Linked DNA regions of Homo sapiens. The protein of the gene in region 2 purifies or fractionates together with the protein of the main gene of each other region. This does not show direct contact. Each region holds a gene or a part of one and is shown on either strand. Other genes may lie near its edges. The genes, in order: CXXC1, BOD1, MSL3 and DCP1B.

Region 1 (2,882 bases), on a different chromosome or scaffold from region 2:
GAGAGGGTAAAGTGGATGTGGAAAGGCAGAGGGTGGGGTTGAGGGAGAGGCAGAGGTCAGAGGCTGAATGGGGCAAGAGCCAGAAAGGGCTAGAATGGAGCAAGGGTCTGGGGTCTGGGGCTGACTTTGACTCCACCCTGACCTGACTTGTCTTGCTCAACAGAAGGAGGAGCGATACAAGCGGCATCGGCAGAAGCAGAAGCACAAGGATAAATGGAAACACCCAGAGAGGGCTGATGCCAAGGACCCTGCGTCACTGCCCCAGTGCCTGGGGCCCGGCTGTGTGCGCCCCGCCCAGCCCAGCTCCAAGTATTGCTCAGATGACTGTGGCATGAAGCTGGCAGCCAAGTGAGTCATTCCTGAGAGGTTCAAGGGAGTCAGGAAGTGCATGGTAGGGCCTGACCACAGCCTTCTGTATGTCTACCAGTCAATCAGCTATCCACCAGTCACCAAACAGCCACTACCCACTCACCCATCCACCTACCCACCCACCTGCCCGTGTGTCCATCCAGCCACCATTCCGCCAGTCACCTATTTACTTCTCCTTTTGCCATTTGCGTCTATTTTGCCATTCTCACTTACTGATCACCTCACTCATTCTGTTGCTTGCTACCTTCCCTGCAGCCGCATCTACGAGATCCTCCCCCAGCGCATCCAGCAGTGGCAGCAGAGCCCTTGCATTGCTGAAGAGCACGGCAAGAAGCTGCTCGAACGCATTCGCCGAGAGCAGCAGAGTGCCCGCACTCGCCTTCAGGAAATGGAACGCCGATTCCATGAGCTTGAGGCCATCATTCTACGTGCCAAGCAGCAGGCTGTGCGCGAGGATGAGGAGGTGAGCAAGCAGGGGCGCAGCAGAGCAGGGCCTGTACTTTGTCCTTCCCAGCCTTATTGTTCCTTCCATTCCATGCAGAGCAACGAGGGTGACAGTGATGACACAGACCTGCAGATCTTCTGTGTTTCCTGTGGGCACCCCATCAACCCACGTGTTGCCTTGCGCCACATGGAGCGCTGCTACGCCAAGGTTGGGGTGTCAGACTGAGGGGGCGGACCATGTGGGAACATCAGTGGGCCAGTGGGGGACAGATTTGTTGTCTGGGTGGTGTCTTGGGAGGGCATGCAGCGCACATCCACAGTTCCCTCCATTTGTGCTCATCCCTCCAGTATGAGAGCCAGACGTCCTTTGGGTCCATGTACCCCACACGCATTGAAGGGTAAGTGAGGGTGCCACGCAGTGAGAGGTGGGGGGTTAAGGCGGGGGTCAGAAGTGGGATGTGTGTGGAGCTGGGGCAGGATACGGGCAACCAGCCAGGACAGATGGACCTCCCTTCCCTCCCTCTACTGCCCTCTCTACTCCAAATCCCCAGGGCCACACGACTCTTCTGTGATGTGTATAATCCTCAGAGCAAAACATACTGTAAGCGGCTCCAGGTGCTGTGCCCCGAGCACTCACGGGACCCCAAAGTAAGGTTTTCCCTCAGCTCCTCCCATTTTGCCCCTCCTCCCTGCCTCGCTGTCCCACATTCATCCCTTCCTTCCTCACCTCACTTTTCCTTCACTTTTTCCTCTCAGCTTCCCTGCTGCTTCACCCTCCATTCCTCCTTTTCCATGCCTCCTCACCGTTCCCTGAACCCTCCATTCTTTTCCTTCTCCCTCCTTGAGCCCCCATTCCTATTCTCCCTTATCACCGCTATTCATCCCCCCAACCTGGCCTCCTTGCAGGTGCCAGCTGACGAGGTATGCGGGTGCCCCCTTGTACGTGATGTCTTTGAGCTCACGGGTGACTTCTGCCGCCTGCCCAAGCGCCAGTGCAATCGCCATTACTGCTGGGAGAAGCTGCGGCGTGCGGAAGTGGACTTGGAGCGCGTGCGTGTGGTAGGTTTCTGTGCGGTTTTGGTGCTGCATGTGGTAGGTTTCCATGTCGGACGTGGCCGGGGCAGGCGGGGCTGCAGGTGTTCCTGCTTAGGACTCCTGCCGCTCCCTTGGCAGTGGTACAAGCTGGACGAGCTGTTTGAGCAGGAGCGCAATGTGCGCACAGCCATGACAAACCGCGCGGGATTGCTGGCCCTGATGCTGCACCAGACGATCCAGCACGATCCCCTCACTACCGACCTGCGCTCCAGTGCCGACCGCTGAGCCTCCTGGCCCGGACCCCTTACACCCTGCATTCCAGATGGGGGAGCCGCCCGGTGCCCGTGTGTCCGTTCCTCCACTCATCTGTTTCTCCGGTTCTCCCTGTGCCCATCCACCGGTTGACCGCCCATCTGCCTTTATCAGAGGGACTGTCCCCGTCGACATGTTCAGTGCCTGGTGGGGCTGCGGAGTCCACTCATCCTTGCCTCCTCTCCCTGGGTTTTGTTAATAAAATTTTGAAGAAACCAAGGAAGCTGTCTCCACATTGCTGCGGTTGCAACTGTTCCAGACTTCTGGATAAGATGGGGGGCGCCTGCACCCCGCGAGAGCCCAGGGACCCACATTCCCAGCCTCCCACGGGCAGAGGGTCTACGCAGCGCGCCTTCAGTGTGGTGACACCGCCCATGCATGCTCCTGTCTCCCACCCAGAGCTGTCGTCCGCTGTGGACGCCAGGCCCCGCCTTTTCCCCACAAGCCCCACGTTGGGGATCCGCCTCCTGCAGGGGCGCGCCCTCCCGCGTGCCTCAGTTTACCTGCGGTGTGGCACCGCCCCTTTCCCCGCCCCGCGCGCTCCCACAGCTGTTCGGCGGGGAGGAGGGAGCGGGACACGACCCCCCCTGGGGTTGATGTTCGGAGGGACCCACGAACACAGGATAGACCCCAGCGAGAGGTGGGAGAGGAGAGCGCCGGCAGGGCCAGGGAGTGCGCAGGCGCGAAGCAGCTTCCTTGCCGCGTTCGGTATCGGCTGTGGA
Region 2 (7,151 bases):
TTGGAGAGATGCTAGTAGTGTTGCTTGGTGCTGGGGATTCCTGTGTATTAAAGCCCTGTTTTTGTTGTTTTTGTTTTTGTTTGTTTTTTTTTGAGACGGAGTCTCGCTCTGTCGCCCAGGCTGGAGTGCAGTGGCGCGATCTCAGCTCACTGCCAACTCCGCCTCCCAGGTTCACGCCATTCTCCTGCCTCAGCCTCCTGAGTAGCTGGGACTACAGGCACCCGCCGCCACACCCGGCTAATTTTTTGTATTTTTGGTAGAGACGGGGTTTCACTGTGTTAGCCAGGATGGTCTCGATCTCCTGACCTCATGATCCGCCTGCCTCAGCCTCCCAAAGTGCTGGGATTACAGGCGTGAGCCACTGCGCCCGGCCCCTGTTTTTCTTCTTAATGCGTATCAGATCCAATCTATCATTAGAGATGCTGGAAAACATCAAAAGGAAACAAACAACAACAACAAAAAAGCAGGGATCAGATGGTGCAGATGTAGCCAAAATGCTATAGACAAGGCAATCTCAAGAAACTCTGGATGCTGTTAATTAAGAAATGAACAGCTGTCCAGACTAAGAATTGGCAAGACTCCTTGGATGAATAAACATAGGTAAGAAGAAAAAGAGCCACCTCATGATCACAAAGAAGGACCAATAACTAGTCTACCCCAAGCAGCTTTGGTGTCTAAATGCAGCCCTGGGCTCAGTCTTAGGGCTCTGGAATGCTCTCGCTTCAGGACCAGGATCTTCGATTAGAAGGTCGGAAGGTTACCAAGGCAACTCCCAGATTATCTTCTAACCTTGGGCCTGCTCCAAGCCCCAGACTCTTAGTCCAGTTTAGTCATATATTATGGACAGATTCCTAGATTGTACTTGACCCCTCTGAATATTGACTATATTCTGACATTTGGTCCAGGGCATTATCAAAAGTCTTAAATGGCCTTATCCTATACCTAGAAGAGTAAATTTCCCATTCACTCATCCTTTATTGTTTTTCATTCATCCGTCATATATTTGTGGAGAGCCTGATGTCCCAGGCACTGTTCTTGGTGCTAGGGATGCAATGATGGTTGAAATGGACAATCCCTGCCTTTGTGGAATTTAGAGGCTAAGAGGAGAAATAGAAGTTAATTAAATCACCTCCTGACCCAAATGTAAATTCATGATGATAATATGTTATTAAACATTTGCTAAAGACCAGGAATTGTGCTAAAATGGATTGCCGAAATGGCACTTAAGCCTCTCCACTGTCCTGGGGAAACTAAGGTTCAGAGGGATGATCCAGCTTTGCCAGCTGGGATTCCAATCCAGTGTCACCTGATGCAAAAAGTCCATACATGTGACTACTTTCTTATATCTCCCTTGGCAAATGATAGATCTCATTTCTTTTCCAGTTTCAGTGAGGTCTAGATTTGGGCTTGGGGAAGTTCTACTTTTTCATGTGGCCTTCAACAAAAAATATTCCAGCACCTAAAATGCGTAATTCTTTGGGGTCGGGCAACTTATTACAGACAAGTTTTAATACTGAGAAGCAACAACAATTTGCTACGTGAAGGATACCTGAAAACCAGATTACTACCTAAGCCAAAGTTAAAACAATGTTCCGCACAGCCATTTCCGAATGTTTTGGATTATTAATACAGCAATGGCGCTCTCTGATGACTGCTGGTGTGTATTACATGTCTCTTGAAGGGAAGAATACATTTTGGATGTTGTGGAGGCCTCCTATTCCACGGTTTGGATAAATAATAAGCCTCCCTTCAGCTTGATCATCTTCACTCCTCATCCCCTTCCCCTTTTATCCCTCATCATTTACTTTGATTGCAGAGGGAAGGTCATGGATACAGAATGCAGCCTTTTGTCAATGTTCAGAGACCCAGCAACCAAGACACAGGTCCCCATGACAGATAGTGAAATTGTCACAGTGTGAACCAAGTGCAGACAATCTCCAGGATCACTTACCTATTTAAGTCATGACAGATTCATCCATCATCTCCTGCTAGAATGCTCCTTCTTTTCTGAAGATTATGGCTACACATAATCCTACCCACGCACTCTGTGATGCTATCCCACAGCTTTAGGAAACAGACAGGAATTTATACATTCTCTTTGAGCTAAGAACTATCGTGCTAAGAGCTGGAGACACAGTGATGAACAAGTCGTGGTCCCCATTCTAAATATTACACCCTATCAGGGGACTCAGGTGGCCAATTTGTCTGTAAATCATTCACTTCCAATTATAATAATTGCTACAAAAAATGAGGCTTTGAGTTTCTGTAGCATGGAGGAAATATCTCATTGGATCTAGGGGTCAGAAGAATTTTCCCTGAGGAAGGAGAGTAAGATGTGGGGTGCCAAAAATGGAGAAGGGACTAGTCAGAGTGATCAAGGGCTTGCAGAAGAAAGAACCTGGGGCTGAGGCAGCCTGAACTGGGCTTCTCCTGGGGTTAAAGGTGAGTGATCAGTGTAGAGTCAACCAGTAGGAACAGACATTAGGTAATCTCAAGGATGGTGAGCTATTAAGAGAGAATGTTTGTCATTAACTGACCCATTGTGAATGATTGAGCTGGTGTTAGAGGATGAGTATAATCCAACACCTGAATGTTTCTTTTGAGGGTTAATTTAAACTCTCTTGGACAGGTGTGGTGGCTCACACCTGTAATCCCAGCACTTTGGGAGGCTGAGGCGGGTAGATCACTTGAGGTCAGGAATTCAAGACCAGCCTGGCCAACATGGTGAAACCCCCATCTCTACTAAAAATACTAAAATTAGCCAGGTATGGTGGCATGCGCCTGTAATCCCAGCTACTCGGGAGGCTGAGGCAGGAGAATTGCTTGAACCCAGGAGGTGGAGGCTGCAGTGAGCCAAGATTGCACCACTGCACTCCAGCCTGGGCGATAGAGTGAGACTCTGTCTCAAAAAAAAAAAAGAAAAAAAAATTAAACTGTCTTGAGTACTAAATATTGGTGTGGAGAACATCCTGGATCTTTGCCAATTCTGCATCTTCGCAGGAGCCAAGGATATTGCAGAATTTGCTATTTACATCCCCTCTGCTGCTTGTGTAAGATGAGGAAACAACAATAGCAGACATAATTGCTGAGGTTGGGAGGGGGAGCTGAGCTAACAATAGGCAAAAGATGAAGGGAAGAGAGGATAATGGTGGCAGCTATAGGATTCCAATGGTGAATTGTGGCTACTTAAAAAAATCAGGATATAAAGCCTTACCTATTGTGGGATACCAACTAGCTCTCAGGATACCTCAGGCTAAAATGCAAGATTTAGATCCTCAAAACCTGGGTTCAAATCCTACTTTTCTACCTCTAGGTATGTGATTAGGTTAACAAACTTTCTTCTGCCTCCATTTCTACGTCTGTAAATAGCAATAATAGTAGTATGTATCTGCTTTTTTAAATTATCGTGAAGAAGTGCGTGGAAAGTGCATAGCATCACGCCTGACACTTTTCAATTATTCAATATTGGCTTATGATTGACAATATTTAATATTTGGGAGGAAATCCACACACATATAAGACAGACTTAAGGAAAACTTTTATTTTCTTCTTCACACTTTTCCGTTATTTTCCAATTTTCTAAAATGAGTATGCATTGCTATTAAAACCAAAAGGAGGGAAACTCACAAATTTCTGAACAATAGAAGTTTGACTGTTCCACTGTTTCCGGAATTTCCCGGAACATGTTGTTCAAGAAGGACGTGGGAGTGCATGCTGAAGCACAGATTGCTAGGTCTCGACCCGTAAATACTGGATAAAAATCTTTAAGAAATAATTCTGGTAATCTATACTTTTAATCAGCTCCACAGATGACTGTTATAATCGGGCACTGCTGGGACGTGTTGATTGAATGGGAAGTGAGCAGAGAGTGGGCGGGGAAGGCCTGGCGGGGAAGGCCTGGCGGGTTGCAGCGATCACGAGGCCTGCGCCTACAGTTCCCATATTACCCCGCGAAATCGCGACGAGCAAGCACGAACCCTGCCGGGAGTTGTAGTTTCTCTCGGCTAGGCCGCTGCCTATAAAGAACGCCGGAGATGGCCACAGAAAACTTCCCGCCCCACAATGCAAAGGTCAACGTTGACGCCATCTGGGGTGCGCCTGGAATCGAGCAGGCCGTTTCTGCCGCGTCCACCACAACCTCTGCTGTATCAGAGGGGGCCTTCGCCGCCGCCGCCCCCACCACCGCCCCTGCCGCCATCGCCACCTCCGCCGCTGCCGCCTTGGGGCCCTCCTCCTTCACCGCCCCCTTCACCACCTCTACACGTTCTAGGCCTTCTGTCCTGGAGAAGAAGCTATAGTCGTTCTCCCTTGTGGGCCCGGGGCGCAGCCATGGCGGACGGCGGCGGCGGCGGGGGAACTGGCGCGGTGGGCGGCGGCGGAACTAGCCAGGCCTCTGCCGGGGCAGCGACTGGCGCTACTGGGGCCAGCGGGGGCGGTGGCCCCATCAACCCGGCCTCGCTGCCTCCCGGCGACCCGCAGCTCATCGCTCTCATCGTGGAGCAGCTCAAGAGCCGGGGCCTTTTTGACAGCTTCCGCCGGGACTGCCTGGCCGACGTGGACACCAAGGTAGCTGCGGCCGCCTGGGCGTTGGGGAGCGGGGCTGCACGTGAGGCCGCCGGGTGGCAGCTTTGATTTTCGAAAGCCGAGAGCAAAACAAAAGATAGCTTAGAAATCTCAGCGGTGAGGTCTTACACCGCTTGGGGCAGTACGGAGAGCTTTCTGAGCGATGCACACGTGGGTTCCTGCCTGATACATTTACTACTAGTTGTGATTTTACCCAGTCCCTTCTCCGAACTTGGGGTTTCAATGTGGGTTTTAGAGCCTAGACCGTATCATTCCCAAGATGGAACTCCTCTGAGGCCCTTAATAACAAACTTCGAAACCAAGTAGATAAGCAAGCGTGCTTTAGAATTTCCACCTGTTCCGTACTCACCACTGAGAAGCTGGCATTAAACACAATGATTTGAACACACAGTCATCACCATTTTATAGCTGTTTATTCCTTTTCTCTAGCTCATTGTTTTGCAGACTAGTACGGCGTTGAATTAAGATAAATTGTAGAAACAGCACCCTTATTTTGCACTTCATCATTGATAAAAGGAGATTTGGTGCCTAGTTGAGATCCTAATGCCATTGGTCAGTCCCACCAGTAAAACGCTATTTCACTTTACCTACTCGTCAGGGTGGTTTGGATTCAATGAAATAATGGGTGTTAAGTATCAGACATACAGTAGTTGCTGGAATGTTCATTTTCTTCCTTTTCAAAACTTGTCTAGCCACGACTGTGGTTGTAGGTTAGGAGACCCTGTCACTGGACTCCTGCAGGGTAGTGATTTCTCCTACCAGAGCCTGTCATGGAAACATTTTGCTTACCTCACAGCAAGATTGTGAGCTTAGAATTAGACCTTAAGATAGGGAAAAACGTAGTCTGTTTATTCGTTGAACGTTTATTGGCCTCTAGTTGCCAAGCTGTGCGATTACAGGAATAAGTCACTACCCCATCCTCAAAACTTATAGTCTAGGTTAGAAAACTGACATGTAAATAAACCAGGTGGTAAATACGGATGTAGAGAGAGAAAGTGGTATACACTGTTCCTTCTCCAAGATGAAAAGCCCAACTAGAAGTCTGTCCTTGAAACAAAGTAATTTAATACATATACATCCCAGATCTGTATTGACAGAGCTTTCACCTTTCCTAGGACAAGTTCTCCATTCATATTTCTTATATTCCGTTAGGTTTTGTGTGTGATTTTAAAACAAAAGCGACTACAGTAGCCCGCCCCATCCAAGGTTTTGCTTTCTGCGGTTTCATTTACCCAATTGTTGCGGTATGGAAGTACTTGTGTTCAGGTAACCCCTATTTTACTTCATAATGGCCCTCAAAGACATTCATGCGTAGTGTATATAGGGTTCAGTACTACCTGAGGTTTCAGGCACCCACTGGGGATCTTGGAACGTATCCCCTGAGGGGGGAGGGGACTACCCTCTTGAGCGGCTGGTGAGGGAGAGTGGTTGGAACCTTCCCATGTACAGCTCCTTAGCTGTTCCTTCTGAGAATTCCAGGTTGTTTTAGTTCTTGAAGATAGTGTTTTTTCAGGCATATCTTATCTGAGACCTTTGTTGCTTCAGCCCAGTGGTTCTCAAAGCGTGGTGCTTGGATTAACATCAGCATCACCTGAGAACTTGTTAGAAATGCACATTTTGGGCCCCACCCCAGACTGCTGAAGTATTTAGGGGAAATTGAACAGATGTCTGTAATTTACTTTGCACTGTAATTTACTTTGAACTGATAAGTGAACAGGTGGAGGGGTTGGTAGTACAGTAAAACGTTATGAGTGGGCTCATGAGTTCCTTTGACTTCTTGAACTGAGATGATTCTGTATCGCCTGGGTTTGTTACGTGTTTTGGTGGTGATGTTCACTGTCCTTTGTCCTTTTTCGGTAAACAGTTCGTATCATCTCAAACCAGGTGCGTTATTTTGAGTAGACGGTATGGCATCAGGATTTATGCTTACAAGGGACAAAAATAATCCTAACTGCTTTATGCAAAGGGGAGAATCTATTGTCTTACGGAATCCAGGGAAGGATTGAACGAACAAACTCTCCCAGAGGGTGGTAGGCGTGCGTTTGGAACCAGATATTCCCCATTCGTTCTGTCTTTCATCTCTGTTGATATCTGTTTTACTGTTGGTTCAGAGTGGAGTCATCCATTTGGTTACTAGTATCTCTTGATTACATTTTACAGCTTCTTCCTCTAGAGAGAGGCTGTCAGCTCCAATCTGGGAAATCCCAGGGAATGTCTGCATTGTCTTAGCGTGGCTCAGGCACCCACTCCTGTGGCACCCTCTGCCCTACCCTTGTGAAGAGAGGAAGACAGTTACTAGAAAGAAGGCGTTACTAGGCAGATAGCACATGGTATCTGTGAATTTTACTCCTCTGCCCCCATTTCCTTGCCTTTCTCTTTTCCAGGTTTAGTGGAGTCTTTGAGTTTGCTCTCTCAACCTTTTGGAAGAGGCCAGTCATGGAATTGAGGCCTGCTGGTTCCTTTGTCAACTTCATTTCCCTGACTGTTAGCAAACTTTGCCGCAGTAATGCTGCATAGCAAACTGAATCTCAGCAGCTTATAACCAGCACTTGTTCACATGTTCATGG
Region 3 (7,424 bases), on a different chromosome or scaffold from region 2:
TCCTCCTCCTAGGTAAGATGTAATCAAATACCCAATCCTAAAATCACCTCTTCATGACATCATCAAATGCAGAGGAAAACCTTACTTCCTTAACTCCTTCACAAGGAGAAGGGCTTCAAGCCACCAAATCATGGAACACAAACTCAAGTCTTCCAATAAGCCTTTTCTAACTCCCTCACTGAGGCTCCCCACAACTTCCCAAGGCGCGCCTTCTCCCTGGCTGAAGTAAACAATATACAACTTGTTCAACGCAAGTTCAACAAGTGTGTTCCTAGTGGTCTTTGGCTGGAGGGCACTGATGGCAGTATTCTGGAACGCTTTCTTCATAATATAACCACAATGTAGGTAGCTTGGTTTTTCCCTTGGAACTACATCCCTATAACATCTGAAGAATTACGAGTGGAAACCAAGAAGCAGTGAAAGTCAACTCCACTTGACCTGAGAAGCACCAACAAGGATTAAGGATTAAGAAGCATTGCAACTTTTGTAAAAGGATCACTATAACTTTTATCAGAATATTCATTAACCACAAAATTATTCTTAGGATGTAGGTCTGCATATCACCTAAGACCAAAAGAAGAAAAAAAAATCCAATTGTAAGGTCATCCAGTTCTAAGGTCAAAGTTGTAAGATCATAGATTGTTCTTAACTTTATAAATGGGTTGTTCCAGAAATTCATTTAAAGTTTGTTTCTAACCTAAAAGAGACATTCTAGTTGAAACCGTATCATAAATGGTAACTAGGTTTACCCTTCATTCCCAAAGCCTACTGAATACTGAATACATGTGAAACAATATTTCAAATGCAACATCAATTATGTCTACATGTCCATGGAAAAATGCATTCTCACCATCAGAGGTCTGTCTCATCAGTATCACCAAAATTAGCAATAGACAACATACCAGATGCCAATAACCTAACTCTACAACTGCAGGAGGGGCGTGATCAGGATGCTTTTGCTGCATGGAGGTTTATTATGTCACAGAGCAAGAAGTTTGGCGTTAGGCATCAGGATTAGTTAATTTAGTGCGTCAGGGGCTCAACAGCTCCCCAGTGACCCAGGTGAGCGAGTGCTAGCCTTGGGCTCTCATCCTCAGAGCCTCAGTGACGATGGCCAGCTCCGTGGTGCCAAGGTGGCTACAGCACTGACACCCTCTCCAACGCCGCATTCTGATGCAGATGATAACACCCAGTGAGGAAGAGGAGACTTTATGCCAGATGTATTTCTTTTGGGGGGAGGCAGGTGGAAAATATTTTCCAGAAGTACTCACAGTTCCCCATTTTAACTCGCTATGAGAATTTCTCATTGGCCAGGCGTGTATCACATGACCATACTTAAACCAGTCACTGTAAGAGGAAGGGGATTGCCGGGATTGGTTTAGACCAGTAGTTCTCAGCCCCGCCTGCACAATGGAATCGCCTGGGAACTTTGGAAACAAAATTCCAACTCCTGGCAACAGTATTTTAACAAGTTTTCAAAGTTCCCCAGCTGTTCCAAATGTATACCCAGAGGTGAGTCCTACCGTATTAGCCCGATCAAGTGTCACTCCAGCCCTGGTGAGAGGTCTGCTCTAACAATGTGGGATGGCAAACACCTGAACAAAATTGGGCCTCTGCCAGCGGGGCGGCGGGCGACGCAACTAACTGGATCCCGCACTGCACTCACCTTGCTAAGAGAAGCAATTCCTGTAGGTGACCTATAATGAGAAATCAAAAAGATTTGTTATAAGATTTAATGGTTATCTTAATCCCGACAAAAACAAGACCATTCTATAATCATGCCCGAATACAGACGAAACTACTGTCCAAACCTCAAAAACTGGAAAATGAGGAAAACACCTAAGTTGCAATTCAAGAGTGCCTTCCTCTCTGGAGCTTTTTCAGATACTCTCCCTCCTCCTAGAGAGAAGTAAGCTCTTCTGTCTCCTCTATTCCACACCAGCTTTATCAGGGTATGCACATAAAGCTTGAACTTGATTGCTTGCTGCTCCGCCCTCCTGAAATGTGCCCTCTGGGAGGACAGGGGTAATGTATGTATTCTACTTTGTGTGTCTAGCAACCAGCACACAGGAGGTCCAATAAATATTTGCTGAATGAATGAATGAATGAATGGGGGACACGGAGAAACAGATAAGAAATGCCTAATGTCAAGAGCAAATATTTACCCAGCCCTTATATGTCAGGCACTACACAAAGCCATGTACACTGAATTGACTCATTGACTCCTAAAAAACCCTATGAAGTAGGAGCCACTATTTCCTTCATTTTAAACATGAACAAAGTGCATTACAAAGAGACTAACCAGTTGTCCATGGTCACAAGCTAGAAAGTGACAAGCATGGGACTGGGTCCTGGAGAGTGGTTTGCAGAGCTGGCCATGTTCTTAACCTTTACACCCGAGAGGAAAAATGATGTCCTGCATTAAGGGTGGAGCCCTCTCTAGTGGATCCTAATCTGGAGGAGGACTGTAAGGGGTGCTGCCATTGGCAGGCTTTTTAACTTTTAGGTTCCTGAAGGCTTTTGCATTCTTGGACTTTTTAGAGGGACGGGGAAAGAGGAATTCCTCAATGACATAAGAAGGGGTGGAAATGCGGAGAAACAAAGGAAAGCATCTAAAATCCTATCCCTGAAAGGGTAGAGCCTGCAGCAGAACTCTCTCCAATCATGGGCAGGAAAAATAAAAAGGTGAATACTTCAGTTACGGTTTACACAGGACGTGCAATTACATGTGCTTCCAAGCCGCCCCTGCCATTTGTGGGGAACACCACCATCTACTGTTCTCATCTCTGATACACCACAACCTGGAGAGGAATCATGGTTCCAGTTCTAGTTTCTGCACCGTATTACCCCAAAGGCCATTTGACCATCTTCCCCCAACCTTTAACTCCTCTGTATAGCCTTATTCTGGCGGATGCAGCTATTACTCACCCAATTCCTTGGGCCAGAAAACCTGGAAGTCTCTCAAGATTCCTCCTTCCCTCTCCTTCACATCCAATTGGCCACTGAGTTTTGTGGGTTCTATTTCCTAAATCAATCTGTTCATTCATTCCATATTATGTGCCACGAATACGCCGTGATGAATTGGATAAGACCCCTACCCCCAGCTTCAAAGAGCTTACTGTCTTAATGAGGTCATTTTGCAAATGAACAACCCATTCTATAGCACAGTGGTACATGCAAGAAAGGGGTTAAGCAGAGTCCTGGGAGGGAACACCTCAGGGCTTTATGATTCATCTTGGGAAGCCTGAGGGCTTTTCTGTTGGCATGCCCACGCTGAAATGTGAAGGATGTATACCAGGAACCTGGTGAAGGAAGCGTGCAGAGGGGAAGCAAATGCAACTTTCTGGAGGCTAGAACAGAGAAGGGGAAGTTCACCAGGTCCGCAGAGATTAGCCTGGAAGCTGGTCTCCAGCCCGGTCCTAATCCAGTAATTACACTGCCCAACGGCTTTCCAAAACTCAAAAGAAAAAGCCCAGCACTGTCCTTCCTGTCCCTGGAAGTTTGTCCTTCAAGTCTCCCATCACTTGTCATTCGCTCATCAAGTATTTACTTAACATCCACTCTGTGCAGGTACCATATTGATAGCGGCCTCAAGGGTGCTTCTATTTAGGGAATTTTTAGTCTATTGGAGCAGATAGACCGTGGGGGGCATTCCGGGGATGCTGGGGGCTGTCAGGCCACGCTAGAAGCTGACACTGAAGACGTCAGCTACTCTTTAAGGACCCATCTGCCTCGCTGCCCACTGCTCAACCCGTCACTGGGGGCTCCAGGCCTGCCACCGGCTTGTCCTCTGAAGGGATAAGCAAGTGTTCTATTCACAGCCCGGAGTGCCCTTCTGCCCTCGCCCGAGGCCACTGCCCGCCTGGGGCCAGCTCCAGCGCTGCGTTCTCCAAGCGTGGCCACACTCATCGGCGCGCTGCTCTGCCAAGGGGGCTGACGCGGCGCGCACGGCCAGGGAGCTCTTGGGGGCAGACGCCGTCCAGCCTCCCGGCCGCCGGGTGCCTACTCCAGACCGGCTCTCTCTCTCCCTAGGCGCCTCCCACGCCCGGGCCGGAGAGCGGGCGCTCGGGGCGACGGACGACCCTGCGCGCACGTGGGCGCAGCCTGGAGGCCGCGGGGACCCTCTCCCATGGGGGCGACGGGAGACGTCCTGCCGGTAGACCTTGGCCAGGGGGTCGCGCTCCCCGCCCGCACCCCTCCCGGAGCCCCGGCGGGGACGTGCGGGGACGCGCCCGGGCGGGAGCGCGCGCGCCAGGCGCCTCCGAGGTCCCGGCAGCGGCTCGGGGCGGGCGGAGGAGGGGCCGAGGGCGGGGCGGCCGCAGCCTCCGCCATTCCCGGCCCCCCCCGGCCACGGCGCACCGCCTCCCCGCCCCCGCCCGCCCTCCCCCACCGCGCGCGCTCCGCCCGCCCCGGAGCCTCGCCCTCCGCCACGATGAGCAAATGAGCGCGAGCGAGGGCATGAAATTTAAATTCCACTCAGGGGAGAAAGTGCTGTGCTTCGAGCCTGACCCCACCAAGGCGCGAGTGCTGTACGATGCCAAGGTGCCGCCGCGGAGGGACAGGGAGGAGGCGCGGGCTGGGGGACCCGGGACCGGGGGCGGGGGCGGGGGCGGACGGCCGCGCGGAGCTGAGGGACCGGCCGGGCTCCTCGGCCTGCGAGGAGCGGTGCGGCCGGCAGGGGGCGCTCACAGGGCGCTACGCCCGGGAGTCGGGGCGGGGTCTGGGATGCTTCCACTTCCTTCCGTCAGGCCGGGCGGCGCACGCGCGGTTGGGAGCCTCGCCCATGCTTTGTCGCGTTACCGGGGCTACCGTTTGCGCCCCCGACTGCAACGGTGGCCGCTGAGGGAGGAGGCTTCTCGAATACGGTTTCTGTCTTCGCGTTAAATGTCTCCTTCTGTGCGGCCTGGTGCCGGGTGGGCTCCTGTGGGACGCCCTGGCCGTCCGATCCAGGTTCTAATTCATAGTTACACGGCGCTGGCCGCTGACTTGCGACGTTGTGTCCCTGGGACCCTAGTCCAGTTTAGGCCCCATCCCGCCTGTAGGCCGTGAACCCCATCCCGAGGGCAAGGTTGGCCCAGTGTTTTCGTACCCCAGGGCCTTGCAGCATTTACGTTTTCAAACTCTGAAGGATTTACGTGGGTCTGACCATAGTTGATGGGAATCGCGCCCCGGGCCGGTCCACCTAAGTCTCCGGGAGCTGAGCCACATCTTGCAGCTCCTCAGATTTGGGTGGCGGGCAGGAGTTGGCACCAGGTCTCCCAGATCCCCAAGGAAAGCACCCAGGTGCTTTCATTTCAGAGACCTGGGTTCCTAGGGCCACCTGGGCGAAGCCTTAGGCGGCAGGGACAGGGGCAGTCCCAGGTGTGTCTTTGGCGATGTCTGGACAGCTCTGTCCATTAGAGATGCTAAAGGACATCCCTAAAGGGATGAGCATATTCTGCCTTCAGTTCCCTCCCCTGCTGCTCCTGTCTTTTAACCGCGTCTGCTATCCCTCTTTCTCCTCGCCCTCCAGCCTCCTCGGGGCGGAGGGGGGGGGGCACGCCCCATCATTAGTTTTAGTTGTTCCCTCTAGGGACACAACAGGGAGGGATTCCAGAGTCTCCAGCTAGCCATCCTGGCACTGGACATAGGGGAGCCCAGGAGACTACAACTCCCAGAGCTCTCAGGGCTGCAGCTTTCATCTAGCCTGGAGTCTCTCCTTAGTGACAAATCGGCTGGCCAATGGCTTCAGAAGCCTCACACTGTCTCACGCTCAGAGACCAATCACGGGGTGGTTGGACGGATGTTTCCTATTTTGAAGGCGTCCACTTGGGGGAAAAAAATGAAAGGAAAAATATTTCAACCCGGCTGTCGGTCTAAAAGAGGAGAGAATGCTTTCTTTAAAAAAGGGTCTGTGAATTAGTTTTCCTGATCTAACTTCTAATTTTCTGTATGTTCTGCCATTTGTGGGAAATATTTCTTCGTTTCAGATTGTTGATGTTATTGTTGGGAAAGACGAAAAAGGCAGAAAGATCCCAGAATATCTGATCCATTTTAATGGTTGGAACAGAAGGTGAGTGAACTTGTTAAACCAGACTGAAAATTGATTGTCTTTGCTGCATAGAAACATTGCAGACTTAAGTTTCAGAAACACTTGTAGAGAAGTTTGTTTCATTTCCTGCTTTTACTTTGTAGCATTGCAAACTTCTTTAAGTTTTTGAAACACTTGTAGAGAAGTTTGTTTCATTTCCTGTCTTTACTTTGTAGCGTTGCAAACTTCTTTAAGTTTTAGAAACACTTGTAGAGAAGTTTGATTCATTTCCTGTTTTTACTTTGTTACCAGAACTTGCCTATTGTGACGAATAGTTACTTTTAAGTCGATTGTATTTGGATTCTGTCTGGGTGATTCTGGAAACCCCAGTTGTTTCTGTGTCTGAATGAGTTACTTTTTCAGTTTATTTGCCTCCTCTTTGTGATTTTAAAATATTTAAATCGTTTTCTAAAAATGTAATTCTGGGGCATTTCTATTGCTTTGAGGTACTTTTAGTCGTTGTTTCATATCAAACTAAAGTACTGAATTTTCCTTTTTTGTTCAATTAGCTGGGATAGATGGGCAGCAGAAGATCATGTGCTTCGTGATACCGATGAAAATCGTAGATTACAGCGTAAATTGGCAAGAAAAGCTGTAGCTCGCCTGTAAGAATACAAAAATCAAGATATAAATGTTATCCAATGTGTTTTCTCTTAGTGTTTTAGATTTTTATGATATAAAAGTAATACAATGACAAATATCATTTATTAAATAATTTTAAATATTTAAAGTGTGTAAGGGGAAGAGTGTTCCTATGGTATTCTAAATAACAGTGTTTTCAGAGTGGTTATTGTATAATTTTCTGAAATGGAAATTACCATTTATGTTCTAAAGTTTAATAATTTTTCAAATGTATTTCATTGTTTATTATATCTTGTTTTGATCTCAAGACTCACGAGTTCAATGTCAAAACTTATTTCAGTTGTTTGCTACTCTTTTTCAGGAGGAGCACAGGAAGAAAGAAGAAGCGCTGCAGGTTGCCTGGTGTGGACTCTGTCTTAAAAGGCCTCCCCACTGAAGAAAAAGATGAAAATGATGAAAACTGTGAGTAGCTTCACTTCATTTCTTTTGGCTGAAAGAACTTCCACCTAGACTGAGAGAAGGATTCACTGAAATTCTAGACAGGGAAACACTTCAAGCTCATTATGTATAATATTTGCCCCATTTATTTTTGACAATTAAAGTAGCAGTCAATATAAGTCAGTAAATCAGTAATAGAACGTTAGCAGAGTCATGCTTGTGACTACTGCCCTCTCGGCCAGCATCTTTGTACAAACCCCTCATGGGTGTGTTCTCATGGGATCTGTTCTCTTTTTGGCACCTCCCAGGCCTTGGTCCCATTTATGAATGCAAC
Region 4 (6,941 bases), on a different chromosome or scaffold from region 2:
ATCCTGGATCAACAAGACACCCAACACAGAACAGCAGACTCCTCTTTTCCAGGTAAATATGTACCAGGGGCAAAATAAAACAGCCTGGGCAGCATAGCAAGATCCTGTCCCTAAAAAAAAAAAAAAAGTAGCCAGGCTTGGTGTCACACGCCTATAGCACCAGCTACTGAGGAGGCTGAGGTGGGAGGATCCCTTGAGCTCAAGAGGCGGAGGTTACAGTGAACCATGATCGTGCCACTGCACTCCAGCCTGGGTGACAGAGCGAGACCCTGTCTGTTAAGAAAAAAAAAGACAGACAAAGAAAAAGGTATTACTATAATGCAGTGAAATGTAGAGTCCACTTCCATGCTCTAGGGACCAATGTGTCACGTACATTTCTGTTTGGAGCAGGGTGCACCTCCGTGCATCTTGATTGCCTGAACTTTCTACCTGGAAGGAGAATCTTCACTTTGGTTAACAATCTGAGAACTTCCCCCAACCTTTTTGAGAGCATTACTTGTAGAGTTAAATCTTCGTTATATTAGGAGGTCTGAAGACCAACACAGACATGGGAGAAAACCGTAATTTTTGACTGTAGGAACTTAGTATGGTCTGCCTTGAAATCAATCTGGAATGCCAAGCAACTGACCTCCTCTTGTTTTTCAGTCCACAGTAAATTATTCACTTATTTAGTAAATATTTTTGAGCACTTACTACATGTCAGGCATTGTCTACATGTGGGTACATAATGATGAAGAAAACAGACTCCTTACCCACAGCCCATGCTGTAGGTTCTTGAAATAAACAAAAAACAGCCTATTTCCTCCTGAAAGGTGCAGCCAGTTTTTATCTTTCTCTGTATCGTCAGTATAGCCTACTGTAGATCAGGAGAGGTATGCATGCCACCCACCTCCACCCCCCACACAAACTGCCAGAGAGGGAAAATATGACAGTTTTTAGAAAGATTCTCTCCTTTAGAGAAGATGCTTTTCCATGTCCATCACTGACTTGGGACAGTGAGGAAACCACAAGCTATTGATCATCTGCCTGTGGGTAACATCTGGAGATCTGACATTGAATTGTTTTCCCTTTGGATTGGAACACATTCATTGAAAGTACATTGGGTTTAAAAATTGGAAAGTTCTCCCTGTGTATCACATATATCATCACTGGCCCTTTGTCATGTTTTGTTATGTACCTTTTTTTGTTTTTTGAGACAGAGTTTCACTCTTGTCGCCCAGGCTGGAGTACAATGGTGCGATCTCGGCTCACTGCAACCTCCACCTCCCGGGTTCAGGCGATTCTGCTGCCTCAGCCTCCTGAGTAGCAGGGATTACAGGCACCTGCCACCACACCTGGCTAATTTTTTGTATTTTTTTAGTAGAGACGAGGTGTCACGATGTTGGCCTGGCTGGTCTCGAACTTCTGACCTCAGGTGATCCACCCACCTCGGGCTCTCAGAGTGCTGGGATTACAGTCGTGAGCCACTGCACCTGGCCTGTTATGTAACTTATAACAGTTTCTCAAAAATCTTGAACTTTTGGCTGGGCATGGTGACTCGTGCCTGTAATCCCAGCACTTTGGAGGTTAAGATAGGAGAATCGCTTGAACCTAGGAGTTTCAGACCAGCCTGGGCAACATAGACCCTGTCTCTACAAGAATTTTTTGTTTTTAATTAGCCGGGTATGGTGGCATGCCACTGTGGTCCCAGCTACTTGGGAGGCTGAAGTGGGAAGATTGCTTGAGCCCAAGAAGTTGAGGCTGCAGTCAGCCATGTTTGCACCACTGCACTCCAGCCTGGGCAGTAGAGTGAGACCTTGTCTCAAAACAAAAAATTCAGTTTTTTGAAAACAAAGACCTTAGGCATGTGCCAAAAGTCTTTGTGAGCCCCTGAGTCAAAGTGTTCTCATTTATTATTTATTAACATCCCAAATCTGAGTACCGACTGCTATAGAAACAATATTTATAACTCCCACTCCCCCTCATTTCAGTGTTATTGTCCCTTTTTTAAAAATGTCTGCTTTTTTCCTCTTTGATGATTTAGAATTAGAAGCATGCGATGAATATAGTCTGACTTAAATTTCTGATGTACAACTCCCTTGACTTTTCAGTACTCACAAATATCAAGAGCCGAGTGAGAAAGGCAAGCATTTCAGCAGCCCACGCTGTGCTCAGAATGCTTGACTCCACCTCCGGGAGCATCACTGCTCAGCACCGCTCCTCGAAATGTCATGTAGGGACAAGTTAAAAGAAACAGCCTGCCTTCCTCTAGGCCAACTTTTGCTCAAAGAGACGCTAAGGGATTGATTATAAAATTACAGCAACTTCTAGCTTGCTGGCCTCCTTGCCTCCCTCTTAGGAGTTCTTTCGGGGAGTTCGGAGGCTGATAAATAACATTCTTTTTCTTCCCTGAGTTAGAAGCAAATGATAGCTGTAGGAGTCAGTCAGATAAGGATCAAAATGTCACTTGCATAACTGAAAGGGCTGTTAGAAAACTTGGTTTCAGGTCTGTTTGCCAAGGGAGTTAGACTCAGCAGACAGGCTCTGGCAGGGCTGAGCAACAGGCCGCCCGGGTCAGCCCAAACACATCAGCTGCGGAAGCTGAAGATGAGGGCTCTCTGCAGGCAGGCAGATCCTGTCAGGGAAGGACCCAGAAGGGGTGGACCCACACATCACTCTCCCTCCCCACGAGAAGTGAGTGAGGCCGCAGGAGGGGCGGGGAGTTGCTCTCACAGCGCCTCCTGTGCTCCGGGGTCAGGAGGGGAAATGGGGAGGCCCCTAACAAGGGTGGCAGCTCACATAGGTTGTGAGACCTTTAGGTCAGGGTCATGGACAACCAGGTCTAAGGAAAAGGTCAGTAGTCCTAAATGCACTTGCCAAATACTGGTAGCCTGAAAAATAAGCTGTCACCCAGAGGCCAAGCTGCATATGCAGTGGAAAGAATAGTCCCCACAGCAGACGATACCAGAGCTGCTCAGTGATGCTGAAGGAAGGTGCATGGAGCAGTGGAGCAAGAATCAGTTTCCCATAAACTTTTCTCAGCTAGGAAAGCTGTGGACAGGGAATGCTTAGACCACCCGTATCTGCCGCTGCAAGCTATCATGCCGTGAGCTGCTCCTGAACCCCGCTCTCTGTGTGTATTTGCTGTGAGCAGGTCATCTCACCTCAGCGCATCCCTGCTACAGCAGCTCCGTCTCTGCTTATGTCCCCCATGGTGTTCGCACAACCCACCTCCGTCCCGCCAAAGGAAAGGGAGAGCGGCCTCTTGCCTGTGGGAGGCCAGGAGCCACCTGCTGCTGCCACCAGCCTCCTCCTGCCCATACAGAGCCCGGAGCCCTCCGTGATCACCAGCAGCCCACTCACCAAGCTCCAGCTCCAGGAGGCACTGCTGTACCTCATTCAGGTAAGCAAGCACGTCATCTCCCTTCGCACCTGACCACGCCTGTTGGCCTCCTGGCTGCAACTATGAGATAAAGACTCAGCCAAGGCCTGCTTAGCTTCCGTGAGAATAACAGGTGTGTGTAACAACTCATCCTGACCCCAGCGGCTTCTGTGCTCAGTTAGCTAGGTGTTATTTATAATACCAAGTGTGGCTTGGGTGTCTCAGCTCTTCAAGGATTTTGTAATTTGAAGGACTGTCTAAGGCCTCCAAGCTGTCACCTGTCAGAAGAGAAGGAAGCATATGCTGGGGATTAAGCAGTCCCTGAGAGGACCCTGGGTGCTGGAGGCCCAGACAGAAAACTCACCATTGGGAGGTAGAGGTGGGAGCAGTCCTGGGCAAGGGGCCATCTGTTGAGTGGGGAAGAGGCCACTGAGCGAGTGGAAAACAGGGAGGGAAGCAAATAATGGCCATGGCTGCTACAGGTATGTTTTACAAGTCATTTTGAAACCTGCTCATTAGGACGGGATGGAGTGACAGGACTCCTTGTGAGCTGCTAGCCTCACTTGCCTATGAAATTATGAAATAATAATGAGTGCTATAATAGCTAACACTCCACAGAGCTGGCGCCGGGCCCTATTTTCAGTGCTACACACAAGCATATAACTCATTCACTCCTTACATAACAACCCTGTTATTTTTCCCATTCTACAGACAAGGAAACTGAGGCTGAGCAACTGGCCTGAGGCACGGAGCTCGTACATAAGCAGGGCTGGGATGCACCCAGCCTGGCCCCCGAGTGCCACTTCCCACGTACTCTCCCGTGGGCCACGTTCACCACATGAATGTTGGCAGGGACCAGCCTCGGGAGAACATTCAGCACAGGTGCCCTAGCAAAGCACACCCAAGAAATCAACGGCAGTCCTTGAAAAGTGGAACATTTGTAGCCAGACAGACTTCAGACACCCCAGTTAACATATTTAGGTGTCTTTTTGGTAGATAATCTTTAAGAAAACTTGTGTGGTACTTTGCTTAAGCATCAGACGGCCTTTAGAGAGCAGGCCAGCCCTTCTGCGGTTGTCTTATCCTACTTAAAAAGACAGTGGTCTCAATTAGTACAACATTTTTAAAAAGGTTCCATGTTGGCCGGGCACAGTGGCTGCTCACGCCTGTAATCCCAGCACTTTGGGAAGCCAAGGTGGGAGCATTGCTTGAGGCCAGGAGTTCAAGACCAGCCTGAGCAACATAGCGAGACTACAAAAGAAGGAAACATGTTTGAGGAAGAATGAAAGGAATGGGGCTAGAAGTCAGCAGAAGCATAATAACAATCAGAGATAAATAAGGTCAACAGCAAATGATTGAGCCCTACTAATTCATAAGTAAATATCAGGATAAAAATATTTGCCACCTTTTAAAGCTATTCATAGTAAGCTCAGGAGGAATTAGACATCTGTGAACCTCTTTACTTTGAGCCAGTTTCTTAAGTTGTAATTTAAAAGATCCATATGTTTTCTGGCTGATTCCCTTCACATTGTCTTGAGACTCTACTCCAGAGTAGTGGCTGAACATGGCGGATTAGAAATTACATTCCCCTGCCCTCCACTCTGCGTGCATTTTACTTCTTCCCGTGTACCACACCTCATATTCCCAGTCACTCAAGCAGTCTGTTTTTAGTTTCTGCCTCTTGTTAGGACACAATCTCATGCAGAGGAACTTTGTGACTACTTTGCAGGAAAAAGAGGGATAACATCACTCTCTTCATTGCATGAGAATGATGCTAAATCTGTGTGGGGTGCCAAGAGGGAATGAAGGGGGAATGTGAAGTGTGGGTGAATTACTAACACTGTAAAGAATTTGGGTGGGAGGGAGAAGTCTCTAGAATTAAAACATGAGGAAAACCACTGATTAGACCGTGATTCTCACTCCTTAGCCAGGCAAAAGAGCCCAGAGATTACCAGTCTTACTCCTGCCCACTTGCCAAGGCTAGAAACTTTCCATAACTTATGGGAAGACTTATATTAGCTTTGATGAAGTACTGATGAAGCATATTGCAAGTAAAATCCTAAGTAATGCCCAAAACAAAGCAGACACATTGTAGGTGACTTGGAGGGCCTTTAAGAACCACAGTGGCTCATGCCTGTAATCCAACACTTGGGGAGGCCAAAGTGGGAGGCTCACTTGAGCCCAGGAGTTCAAGACCACCCTGAGCAACATAGTGAGACCCTGTCTTAACAAAAAACTTAAAAGCCAGGCATGGTAGCACGCACCTGTAGCCCTAGCTACTCTGGAGGCTGAGGTGGGAGGATCGCTTGAACCCATGAGGTTGAGGCTGCAGTGAGCTATGATGGCACTACTGCACTTTAGCTTGGGTGACAGAGTGAGACCCAGTCTCAAAAACCCAAAAAACAAGAAACAAAAAAACACACCACAGCAATCTCTTAACCAAACTTTGAGACCACTGACTTGGATCATGTCCTCCTAACTCCTCTGTCTGCTGGGGCTTCATGTCTTTTCATGCAGCAGACCCAGGCTGTTCTTGAGTAAACCTTGCTCCATGCTGCCATGTGTCTGGGCTGCCCATCTGTGCTGCATGTAATGAGCTCTTGCTGCTGTGCATACTGACCATGGAAAACCATCAGCTCTGTCCGGCCTTGCCGTCAACCCCACTTAACATTCACACATGCAATTAAAAACCACCAGCTGTTAGACAGGGAGAGATGAGTGTCTCAGTATCCAAAGGCCAGTTCAGCTCTAAGACAGAGGAAGCCTTTTGTGTCTGCCAACCAAGTAACATTCTCTTGGGTCTTTCGATTTGTTTTCCAGAATGATGACAACTTCTTAAATATAATCTATGAAGCCTATCTCTTCAGCATGACTCAAGCAGCCATGAAAAAGACTATGTGACAGCAAGGCCTTTTAAAACTGATTTTCAAGGTCCTTCTAGAACTCCGGCACAAGGTTCTTTCATGTTGAGTGTTGTTTCCTTCAATGTTTCTGCCTTTTTTAAAAAAAAAGTATGTGTAATATGAAGTAAAATGTTTCAGACTTTTTTTTATACTCAAGTGTTTTTTAATTATTATTATACTTTAAGTTCTGGGGTACATGTACAGAACATGCAGGTTTGTTACATAGGTATACACATGCCATGGTGGTTTGCTGCACCCATCAACCCATCATCTACATTAGTATTTCTCCTAACGCGCTTCCTCCCCTAGTCCCCCACCCCGCGACAGACCCCAGTGTGTGATGTTCCCCTCCCTATGTCCGTGTGTTCTCATTGTTCAATTCCCACCTGTGAGTGAGAACATGTGGTGTTTGGTTTTCTGTTACTTTGTTAGTTTGCTGAGAATGATGGTTTCCAGCTTCATCCATGCCCCTGCAAAGGACAAGAACTCATTCTTTTTTATGGCTGCATAGTATTCCCTGGGTGTATATATGCCGTATTTTCTTTATCCAGTCTATCATTAATGGACATTTGGGTTGGTTCCAAGTCTTTGCTATTGTGAATAGTGCTGCAATAAACATACGTGTGCATGTGTCTTGATAGTGGAATGATAATCCTTTGATTATAGTAGAGTTACAA

Evidence for each region.
Region 1: the proteins of BOD1 (region 2) and CXXC1 purify together in Homo sapiens (affinity purification with mass spectrometry; 5 studies listed by BioGRID and IntAct, with this or other methods). This does not show direct contact.
Region 3: the proteins of BOD1 (region 2) and MSL3 purify together in Homo sapiens (affinity purification with mass spectrometry; 4 studies listed by BioGRID and IntAct, with this or other methods). This does not show direct contact.
Region 4: the proteins of BOD1 (region 2) and DCP1B purify together in Homo sapiens (affinity purification with mass spectrometry; 2 studies listed by BioGRID and IntAct, with this or other methods). This does not show direct contact.

What each region holds. Positions count from the first base shown.
Region 1 is NC_000018.10:50,281,844-50,284,725, reverse strand, and holds the end of CXXC1 (CXXC-type zinc finger protein 1), read left to right. Parts: coding exon of another isoform or gene 1-6; intron 7-163; coding exon 164-348; intron 349-624; coding exon 625-832; intron 833-910; coding exon 911-1,021; intron 1,022-1,161; coding exon 1,162-1,211; intron 1,212-1,364; coding exon 1,365-1,461; intron 1,462-1,719; coding exon 1,720-1,872; intron 1,873-1,986; coding exon 1,987-2,133; 3' UTR 2,134-2,379; downstream 2,380-2,882. UniProt on the Homo sapiens protein: Transcriptional activator that exhibits a unique DNA binding specificity for CpG unmethylated motifs with a preference for CpGG.
Region 2 is NC_000005.10:173,613,615-173,620,765, reverse strand, and holds the start of BOD1 (biorientation of chromosomes in cell division protein 1), read left to right. Parts: upstream 1-4,115; 5' UTR 4,116-4,329; coding exon 4,330-4,566; intron 4,567-7,151. UniProt on the Homo sapiens protein: Required for proper chromosome biorientation through the detection or correction of syntelic attachments in mitotic spindles.
Region 3 is NC_000023.11:11,753,824-11,761,247, forward strand, and holds the start of MSL3 (MSL complex subunit 3), read left to right. Parts: upstream 1-4,413; 5' UTR 4,414-4,440; coding exon 4,441-4,542; intron 4,543-4,758; exon of another isoform or gene 4,759-4,884; coding exon of another isoform or gene 4,885-4,950; intron 4,951-5,823; exon of another isoform or gene 5,824-5,969; coding exon 5,970-6,052; intron 6,053-6,579; coding exon 6,580-6,675; intron 6,676-7,013; coding exon 7,014-7,114; intron 7,115-7,424. UniProt on the Homo sapiens protein: Non-catalytic component of the MSL histone acetyltransferase complex, a multiprotein complex that mediates the majority of histone H4 acetylation at 'Lys-16' (H4K16ac), an epigenetic mark that prevents chromatin compaction.
Region 4 is NC_000012.12:1,945,527-1,952,467, reverse strand, and holds the end of DCP1B (mRNA-decapping enzyme 1B), read left to right. Parts: coding exon 1-52; intron 53-3,133; coding exon 3,134-3,382; intron 3,383-6,181; coding exon 6,182-6,262; 3' UTR 6,263-6,415; downstream 6,416-6,941. UniProt on the Homo sapiens protein: May play a role in the degradation of mRNAs, both in normal mRNA turnover and in nonsense-mediated mRNA decay. May remove the 7-methyl guanine cap structure from mRNA molecules, yielding a 5'-phosphorylated mRNA fragment and 7m-GDP.